Linked DNA regions of Homo sapiens. The protein of the gene in region 1 purifies or fractionates together with the protein of each later gene. This does not show direct contact. Each region holds a gene or a part of one and is shown on either strand. Other genes may lie near its edges.

Region 1 (4,128 bases):
ATGTACTGTTTGATTTGGTTTGCTAGTATTTTGCTGAAGATTTTTGTGTCTATTTTCATCAGGGATATTGGCTTGTAGTTTTTTTGTGTGTTTTATCCTTGCCTGGCTTCAGTATCAGGATGATACTGGCTTTGTAGAATGAGTTAGGGAGGATTCCCTCCTATAATTTTTGGAATAGTTTCAATAGTGCTGTTACTAGTTCTTCCTTGCATGTCTAGTAGAATTCAGCTGTGAATCTGTCTGGTCCTGGGCTTTTTGTTTTTGCAAGATTTTTTTCTATTACTGATTCAATTTCAATACTCAGTAGTCTGTTGAGGATTCCTATTTCTCCCTGGTTCAATCTTGGAAGGTTATGTGTTTCTAGGAATTTATCCACTTCCTCTAGGTTTTCTAATATGTGCATATAGTTTCTGCTGATATTTTATATGTCTGTGTTATCAGTTATAATATCACCTTATCATTTCTGATTGTATTTATTTGAATCTTCTTTTTTTCTTGGTTAATCTAGCTAGTGGTCTGTCAGTTTTATCTTTGCAAAGAACCAACTTTTTCTTTTATTGATCTTTTGCATTCCTTTGTTCTCAGTCTCATTTTTGCCTGCTCTGATATTTGTTATTGCTTTTCTTCTGCCAGCTTTGGGTTGAGTTTGTTTTGTTTTTTCCTAGTTCCTTGAGATGTGACGTTAGGCTATTCATTTGAGATTTTTCTATCTTTTTGGTGTAGGCATTTAATGCTATAAAATCCTCTCTTAGCACTGCTTTTGCTGTATCTCAGATGTTTTCATGTGTTTTGTCTCTATTTTCATTTATTTCAAAAAATTTTAAATTTCCACCTTAGTTTCATCATTGATCCAAAAATCATTCAGGAGCAAGCTGTTTAAATTCCATGTATCTGTTTTGAGAGTTCCTCTTGGTATTGATATCTAGTTTTATTCCACTATGGTCAGAGAAGATGTTAGATATGATTTTGTTTTTTTAAAATTTATTGATACTTGCTTTGTGGTCCAGTATATGACCTATTTTTGAGAATGTTCCATGCACAGAAGAGAAGAGTATATATTCTGTGGTTGTTGGGTAGAATGTTCTTCAGATGTCTGTTGGGTCCATTTGGTGTAGAGTCCAATTTAAGTCCAGAGTTTCTTTGTTGATTTCTGTCCCAGTGATCTGTCTAGTGCTGTCAATGGAGTGGTGAAGTCCCCTGCTATTGTTGTATTGCTGTCTATCTCTTTTCTTAGGTCTAGTAGTATCTGTGTTATGGATCTGGGTGTTGCAGTGTTGGGTGCATACATATTTAGGATTGTTTTATCTTCTTGTTGAATTTATCCTTTATCATTATAAATGACCTTCTTTGTCCTTTTTAATTTTTGTTGGTATAAAGTCTGTTTTGGCCATCACGGTGGCTCACGTCTGTAATCCCAGCACTTTGGGAGGCTGAGGCGGGCAGATCACTTGAAGTCAGGAGTTCAAGACCAGCCTGGCCAACATGGTGAAACCCCGTCGCTACTAAAAATACAAAAAAAAAAAAAAAAAAAATTAGCCGGGCATGGTGGCGCATGCCTGTAATCCCAACTACTTGAGAGGCTGAGGCACAAGAATCGCTTGAACTCAGGAGCTGGAGGTTGCAGTGAGCTGAGATCACACCACTGCACTCCAGCCTGGGCAACAGAGCGAGACTCTGTCTCAAAATAAAATAAAATAAAATAAATTTGACTAACAACTTATGTATAAAAGGAAATTACAAATATATTAGACAAAATCATTCTAACAGGGTATTATGGGTTGAACTGTATCCCCTAAAAAGATATGCTGAAGTCCTAACCCCTGGTACCGGTAAATGTGACCTTACTTGGAAACAGGGTCTTGGCAGATATAATCAAGTTAAGATGAGGTCACCAGGTAACCCCAATCTAACCTGACTGGTGTCCAAATAAAAGACATACACAGAGATACACAGCGAGAATGCAATGTGAAGATGGAGGCAGAGATTGGAATGGTGTATGTAAAAGCCATGGAATGCCAAGGACTGCCAGCTGTTAACAGAGGTTAGGAAAAAGGCATAGAACAGATCCTCAGAGTCCTCAGAAGGAACCAAAACGATCAGCACCCTTGAGTTTAGATTTCCAGGCTCTAAACTATGAGAGAATAAATTTCTCTTGTTTTAAGCCACCAAGGTTTTGGTACTTGGTACTTTGTTATCGTATCGTTTAAAAACGAATACATAGGAGAACCTTTGATAATATGTATCCTAATTTGTTCTCCTTACCTGTTTTAAAAAAATTATTATAAAGGTTAACAAAATGGTCTTACTTTACTGTCATTCAACCAGTATGAATTCCCTCATGGCGAATGAGGTCAGAGCGACTACCAAAAGCCTTTCCACATTCCTTACAGTCATAGGGTTTCTCACCAGTGTGAATTCTCTGATGTCGAGTAAGATTTGAGCCTTTATTAAAGGCCTTCCCACATTCATTACATTCATATGGTTTTTCATCTGTATGGATTCTCTGATGTTGAATAAGTTCTGAGCTCTGAATAAAGGCCTTTCTACATTCTTCACATTCATAGAGCTTCTCACCAGCATGAATTCTGTGATGGTTAGTAAGTGTTGAGGCACTATTAAAGGCCTTCCCACACTGCTTACATTCATAAGGTTTCTCACCAGTATGCATTCTCTGATGCTGAATAAGCCTTGAGTGTTGAGTAAAGGCTTTCCCACATTCTTTACATTCATAAGGTTTCTCACCAGTATGAATTCTCAGATGTAGAAAAAGTTGTGAACTTTTAGTAAAGGCTTTTCCACATACTTTACATTCATAGGGTTTCTCACCAGTGTGAATTCTCTGATGATCATTAAGGTTTGAGCAATACTTAAAGGCTTTTCCACATTCCTTACATTCATAGGGTTTCTCACCAGTGTGAATCCTCTGATGTTGAGAAAAATATGAACTACAACTAAAAGCCTTGCCACATTCCTTACATTCATAGGGTTTTTTACCAGTGTGAATCCTCTGATGTCGAGTAACGAGTGAGCCACGACTAAAGGACTTCCCATACTCCTTAGATTCATAGTGTTTTTCACCAAAATGAATTCTCTGATGTTGGATAAATTGTGAGTTTTGATTAAAGGTCTTTCCACATATCTTACATTCCCATGGTTTCTCTTCACTCATAGTTTTTTGAGGTGGAATAAGAAATGTGGGCTGAATAAAAGTAGACATGTCTTCACGGGTAATTATTACTTGACTGAAATGTCTCTTCTTTAGAGATAATATTTTGGTCTCACACATTGATTCCAGATCTGAAAGAAAATACAAAGGCAAATAAATTTTCCTATTCTGGGCAAGTTAAAACTTCTAAAAAAGAAATGGGAGAATTAAACTGAAAAGAATATCTGAGAAATTACACAGTTTTCAAAGGTGGAGAGGCAATCTGTAAAACTGACAAGAAAAGCACAGACATTAGGAGAGGTAATAAAAGAAGCTGAGGATGTGGATTCAGAAAGTAGATGACCTCTATGATCCTCAAATTTTGGTCTGAACCAGAGTCACCTTAAGCCTTGGTGAATACACAGTGTTCAGCACCATCCTCCATATTATAGAGAGATTCTAATTAAAAAAAAAAAATTTTTTTTGCCCCCACCCCAGATCCCCCACAGGCGCTGCCTGAGACCCAGCTCTGTGTCTCCTCGTCGTACAGCTTGTGGAGCTCCGACTGCAAGGCCATCAGCATGCCCAGGCAGGGGTTAAGCTGGAGGGCCATGGAGGAGGACAGGCCAGCAGGATGCCGCTTCTGCTCCAGGGCATGCACCATGCGTGAGATATTCTAATTATATACACGTTCATAAACATATGCTCACATGCACAGAGTATGATACTGTATGTTTTGCAATTCGTAGATAACTGTCAGACCTACATGAAAGGACTGTTAAGAATAACAAATGTGTTGAAAGGTTTAAATGTCGGGGGCGGGTGGAGTTCAGTGACTGTGCAATGGTATACTGGCAAATCACCAGCCTCCGACAAATCTAATATGCTGAACACAACTGGTGGGAAGAGTAGACAGGTACATCTCTTCTGTGCATACAGCATGATATGGGCTAGGAACTCACTGAAAATAATTTGCTCTGGAA
Region 2 (5,294 bases), on another chromosome or scaffold:
ACAATAAGGCTTATGCTAATATTTTGTTATGATTACAAAAAAATTCATAGATTTTTTTTAATCCATGTGGTAACTCAAGACTGTTTACCTGCAGAGAAAATACACTGTACGCAGTCATAAACTTCATGCAAATCGTTTCAATAATTCATCAAAGATAATCCATGTTCTATAAGCTTGTGAAACAACATTTAGTGATCTATGAACAGCTTGTTAATTCCAAATAAAGTTCTGTGAATCCTGTACATGCCTCTTAATTTTTTAATTCTAATGCTCATTCATTTCGGCTTCATAGTTGTATAAACTGCAACAACAAAAGCACTCACTACATGGAACAATAAAAGATATATAATTGATCTTATTATATAATTACAAAGGATGTACTTCTAGTAATGTCACTGAAAGCAGATATCAAAATTCATTACCAGGAGTACTTTGCTGTTGAATGGTTCCTGTGCCATACAGAGATAAGATGGAGTCTTTGGAAAGTTGTTTCTTTGCCACTTCTTCTGATTTTGTAGTTTGCTCAGTGAATAAATCTAGATCCCCAGATGTTACTGTAGACAGGGTTGCAGCTGCTGGTGCAGAGGGTGTCCCCTGAGACAAACACCAAAATAAGCTATCAAATTCTGCATAGTAAAGCGCAGCTTATCCATTACTTAAAATCCAAATAAAGTTATAAAATTAGATAGGAATCAAACAATTGTAGAAGGTAAAATGGTGCCATTCAAGAGGATCACTTACAAGCCCAAGCCCATATAAAAACATCTACAATCAAGACAGTACTTCTTAATTTGAATCTGTTAATGTAGGTAGACTGAAGCATTTTCACAGTAAGTTGCATTTACTACCTAAGGTGACACCAAGTTTTTGCTCATCAAATCCTGGGGCTCAACAATAGTTAGAGATGAGAGGACCACCACTCCATAGCAACTACTGCTTCAAGAAACTGGTATCCTTTGGAATAAAGAACATTTCTACAACTACAACAGACTGTAAGAGGATTTGCAATGGCTACTTAAAAGGTTTTATCTTTTCAAAACCTGTATCATAGGATTTTTATACATCTAATCAGTTTTAACTACAATATTAGACTGCTTCTAATCTATCCAGAAATGAAGGTACAGCAAAACTTTGACCATCTATTGTCTGAACATATCCTGCCCTTCACTTTTGGACAAGGGGGCAAATGAACACAAATACAAATAAACATGTAGATATTTAATATAAAATATTCTCAATCTCATATCTTGCACACACTATTATACAATCACAACTGCTAACCTTAATCATCTCCGTAGTCACTAAACATTAAATCACATTCACATGTTATATGGACTTGTTTTGAATATGAAGAGAGTTTCAAAGAATTCTATGAAGACTAGTAAAAGCTGGCTGATCCTTCTCAAACTACAGAATAAGGTGAGTTGCAAGTGGAAATTAAATTCAAACATTTAATGTCCTCCTAGAACACCATGCAATAAGTTACCATCCAAACATTGTACTTATAAACTACACAGTATTTTGAATCTTATGACTAAGCAAGAATTGTAAGCGACAAAAAGCCGCTTAATTTTCCAAAAATTCAAATATGTAAGAAATTAGATATCATGGAATACTAAATATCACAATACCCCTGAATAAAATATATCTAAGCTACCAATGAAGCAGCAGCAGATCATAGAGCTAAGAGCATGGGCTGGAGCCTGTCTGCCAGGACTAGAGCCTGCCCCCATGACTTTCTGTGGTACACTCAGACATGTTACTTTACTTCTCCTTTCAGTCTCTCTCCTATAAACTTGGGATAAGCTTAATGATCACAAAAGTGTTCTGCACAATGGTTGGATTAAGTACTTGGTGTTTATTGTTAATATTGTTTATAAAACAAAGCAACTACATCACTAAGTGATCTTTTTATCACACTTAGTATCTGTTCAACCTAAAAGTCTGCTGAAAACCCTGGGGTCTATTCCCTGTGGATAAGAGACAACTATAAGAAAACCCAAAATGTTGGGAAGCTATGATTCCACTCTCATAGTAGAGCAGCCTAATATTCACATACTGTAAACATCATAATATGAAATATCTACCTCAACAAGGACACAGTCTAAAAACAGCCAAACCAATCAGCAGGACTAGTAAGCACTCAAATGTCCACTTACTTTCTGGTGCTCCACTCGCCAGCACTACGACCCCAGGATAAAAGGGAAACAACTTCTGCCTCTCATTTTACACTTCAGGAAGCTGCAGAGCATCTAATCGAAGGCTCTCTGGCCTTCTGGGACCCAAGGGCTTAACCAAGAAAAAACAGGACTTAGCCCTTGTGTATGTCTAGGTACTGTTGGTATATGTATATGTATATGTATATGTATATGTATATGTATATGTATATGTATATGTATATGAAAGAACAGGAAAGGGGTTTCTCCATGTCAACAATGAAGACTCTGGAACTGTTCCTCTCCAGCCCCCAAAACACAGGTACACTCCTGTCAGCTAAGTATTTCTAACTAACCCCTTTAAGAAAGACTAGACCCCAGACAGGTAAGGCAGATGGTAAAATCAATCTATTTCATATTCATAAGTTAGAAAATATTGTACTAGAATTTGTATATACTCAGAAAATAACACAAGGAGTGAAAGAATACAGGGTTCAGAAGAATTCAAAATCTTGGTGTCCACAACTAGTTTGAGCTCAACTTCACATATTAAAAACCCACCAAAATGACTAAATTACATGGTAGCAATATATGCATAGAATCTGTAGTTTCAGCACCATCCCCCATTTTCAAAGGCATTATTTTGAAAATATGTCTGGATTTTTTTTTTTTTCCAGACGAAGTCTCACTCTTGTCCCCCAGGCTGGAGTGCAATGGCGTGATCTCCGCTCACTGCAACCTCTGCCTCCCGGGTTCAAGCAATTCTCCTGCCTCAGCCTCCCGAGTAACTGGGATTACAGGCGCACGCCACCACGCCCAGCTAATTTTTGTATTTTAAGGAGAGATGGGGTTTCACCATGTTGGCCAGGCTGGTGTTGAACTCCTGGCCTCAGGTGATCCACCCACCTCAGCCTCCCAAAGTGCTGGGATTACAGGCATGAACCACCATACCTGGCCAAATATGTCTGGATTTTAATCTCTACATGAAGTTTAGACGAAAGATACTACTGTTCACCAAATATTTTACAGGGCTCAACATAACTTGTACAGTCTAACCAGTGCTCAACATAACAGTGTTCCAAAAGAAGTATTAGATATGATTTTAAAAATTAACCCTATGTCCTACCAGGTAATGCTCAGAATGCCTAAAGTCTGAAGGCCAGCTGCCACCCCTCTTAAAGCCAGAGGCTACACTCCTTGTCATGGCACTACTTGTGCTTAAGAATTAAACGAAGTCTGCATTGTTCTACTTGCTGCTTTAATACAGAACAGAACACGTGAAGTACACTGAAACCTCAGAGGTGGGATCTAACTCTCTTAAGCAGTTGCAAAGCAACTGTCAGACCCCAGTGACAGTGCTAAATAAGTCTAGCAGGTATAACAGCCGCACTACAATGCTAGACTAAAAATAAATGGCTTTTCACATTCTGGTTGTCAAATATCCTAAATGCTTCTTTCCAAAGACACAATATTAGACAATTTTGTCACATGTACACCTATGCCTGTACCAATTTGTAAGGTAATTAATCTTAATTGAAATAACAGTAACAATATTCTCTTTTTTATGTGTGTTACAGGAGGGGAAGAAGGGGCAAAGCCATAAAATAAGCTATTTTGCTGAAAATAAACACTACTGCTGCAGACAATTTTGATAAAGATCCATTTAATCATTCCTAAGAAATCTACTTGTTCCATTCTAATGGTAACTATATAATGACTATCATAATAACAATAAATATGTGCAACAGAAATATGTTCCTAGCCTTATAAGACATTGACTTTTTCTTATTAAAACTGTCTACCAGAACAATTCAGATTTGACTCAGTTTTTCTATGGAAAAGGAAATATTTTATCTCAAAAATTATGCTGCACAAACTGCTTGTTTATTTGTAAAGTATAAACTTAAGATAGAATCTTAATGTTGTATGCTTAAGAGTAGTTTGTTTCCTGAAAGTTCATACAGTTCACATTACAAAAATTCCATGTAATGTTAAGAAGGCAATTCAAAATTTCTTCACCATTAATACTTTTATTAAAATATCCCGATCATTATTATTACTGTTCTAGATTTTTAAAAAATCACTTAAAAAAAAAAGCAAGGTAGATTTTAAGGCTAACTTAAAACATAATTTACCTTCATTTTGCCTTTATTTTAAAAAGACAGTACTAAATTTGCTAGAACTTCTGCAGTCAATATTTACAAACAGCCACAGTTTTAAAAGCTCTGAAGTAAGTGACCTTGTTGATCTCAGGAAAGTTGAGGTAGTCAGGGTTTTTCCACTTGTTCATTCTAAATACTGTTGTTTCCCTAAAGCAAGGGTTAGAACTTTAAAGACAGTGAATATTTTAGGTTTTGTGGGCTATACATTCTCTGTTTTTAATATTTAACTCTGCTTTTGTAGCAGGAAAGCAGCCACATACAGTACCTAAACCAGTGGGAGTGGCTGTGTGCCAATAAAACTTTATTTGCAAAAACAAGCTGCTGGCTTAGTTTGCTAAACTCTAGCCTAAAGAACAGGAGACTTTTAAATCAGTTACTGCTCAGAAACAATTCTTCCAAAATTGAAATTTTGAAACTTTTCAAAAAGGAAATAAGCAGTGACCATATAAAACCATATTCTTATCACATACCTGAGCTGGGGGCATGACAGTTGCAGGTAAGGGATTAGAAATCATCGGTCCAAAGATGTCCAGATCATCGTTCAGGGGTGGCACCGTTGTGTTCCCGTTGGTCACTGGTGCCACAGCAGGGCCATCTGAAAAGAATATAGATTCTCGTCTTAACGTAGAATATCTTAAATTACTTGAAACATGGCATTATTTTAAAAATTGATATATGGTTAAAAAAAAAGAACAGTTCAAAAGTTGGTAAAACATTTGTTCTCCTTCTACCTACCCCCGATCCCCTTTCCCAAAGAAACCATTTCCAGTTTTGTTGATTCCCCCAGAAATATTCTTTATCCACTGGTTTCTAGGTATATATCCAAACCTCCTTTTTAACCAATGGTATCATACTATTCACATTATTTTGCACCCTAATTTTTTTTAATAAGATCATAGATTTTTATGGTGCTTCCTATATGCCAGGCACTGTTCTGGGTACTTCACATGTATCAACTCATTTAATCCTCATAACC

Evidence for each region. The genes of interacting proteins can lie anywhere in the genome.
Region 2: the proteins of ZNF829 (region 1) and SMAP1 purify together in Homo sapiens (affinity purification with mass spectrometry; one large-scale study listed by BioGRID and IntAct). This does not show direct contact.

Annotation. Positions count from the first base shown.
Region 1 is NC_000019.10:36,889,175-36,893,302, forward strand, and holds part of ZNF829 (zinc finger protein 829), read right to left. Parts: intron 4,045-4,128; exon of another isoform or gene 3,644-4,044; intron 3,298-3,643; coding exon 2,318-3,297; 3' UTR 1-2,317. UniProt on the Homo sapiens protein: May be involved in transcriptional regulation.
Region 2 is NC_000006.12:70,852,159-70,857,452, reverse strand, and holds part of SMAP1 (stromal membrane-associated protein 1), read right to left. Parts: intron 4,914-5,294; coding exon 4,789-4,913; intron 775-4,788; exon of another isoform or gene 595-774; coding exon 423-594; exon of another isoform or gene 1-422. UniProt on the Homo sapiens protein: GTPase activating protein that acts on ARF6. Plays a role in clathrin-dependent endocytosis. May play a role in erythropoiesis.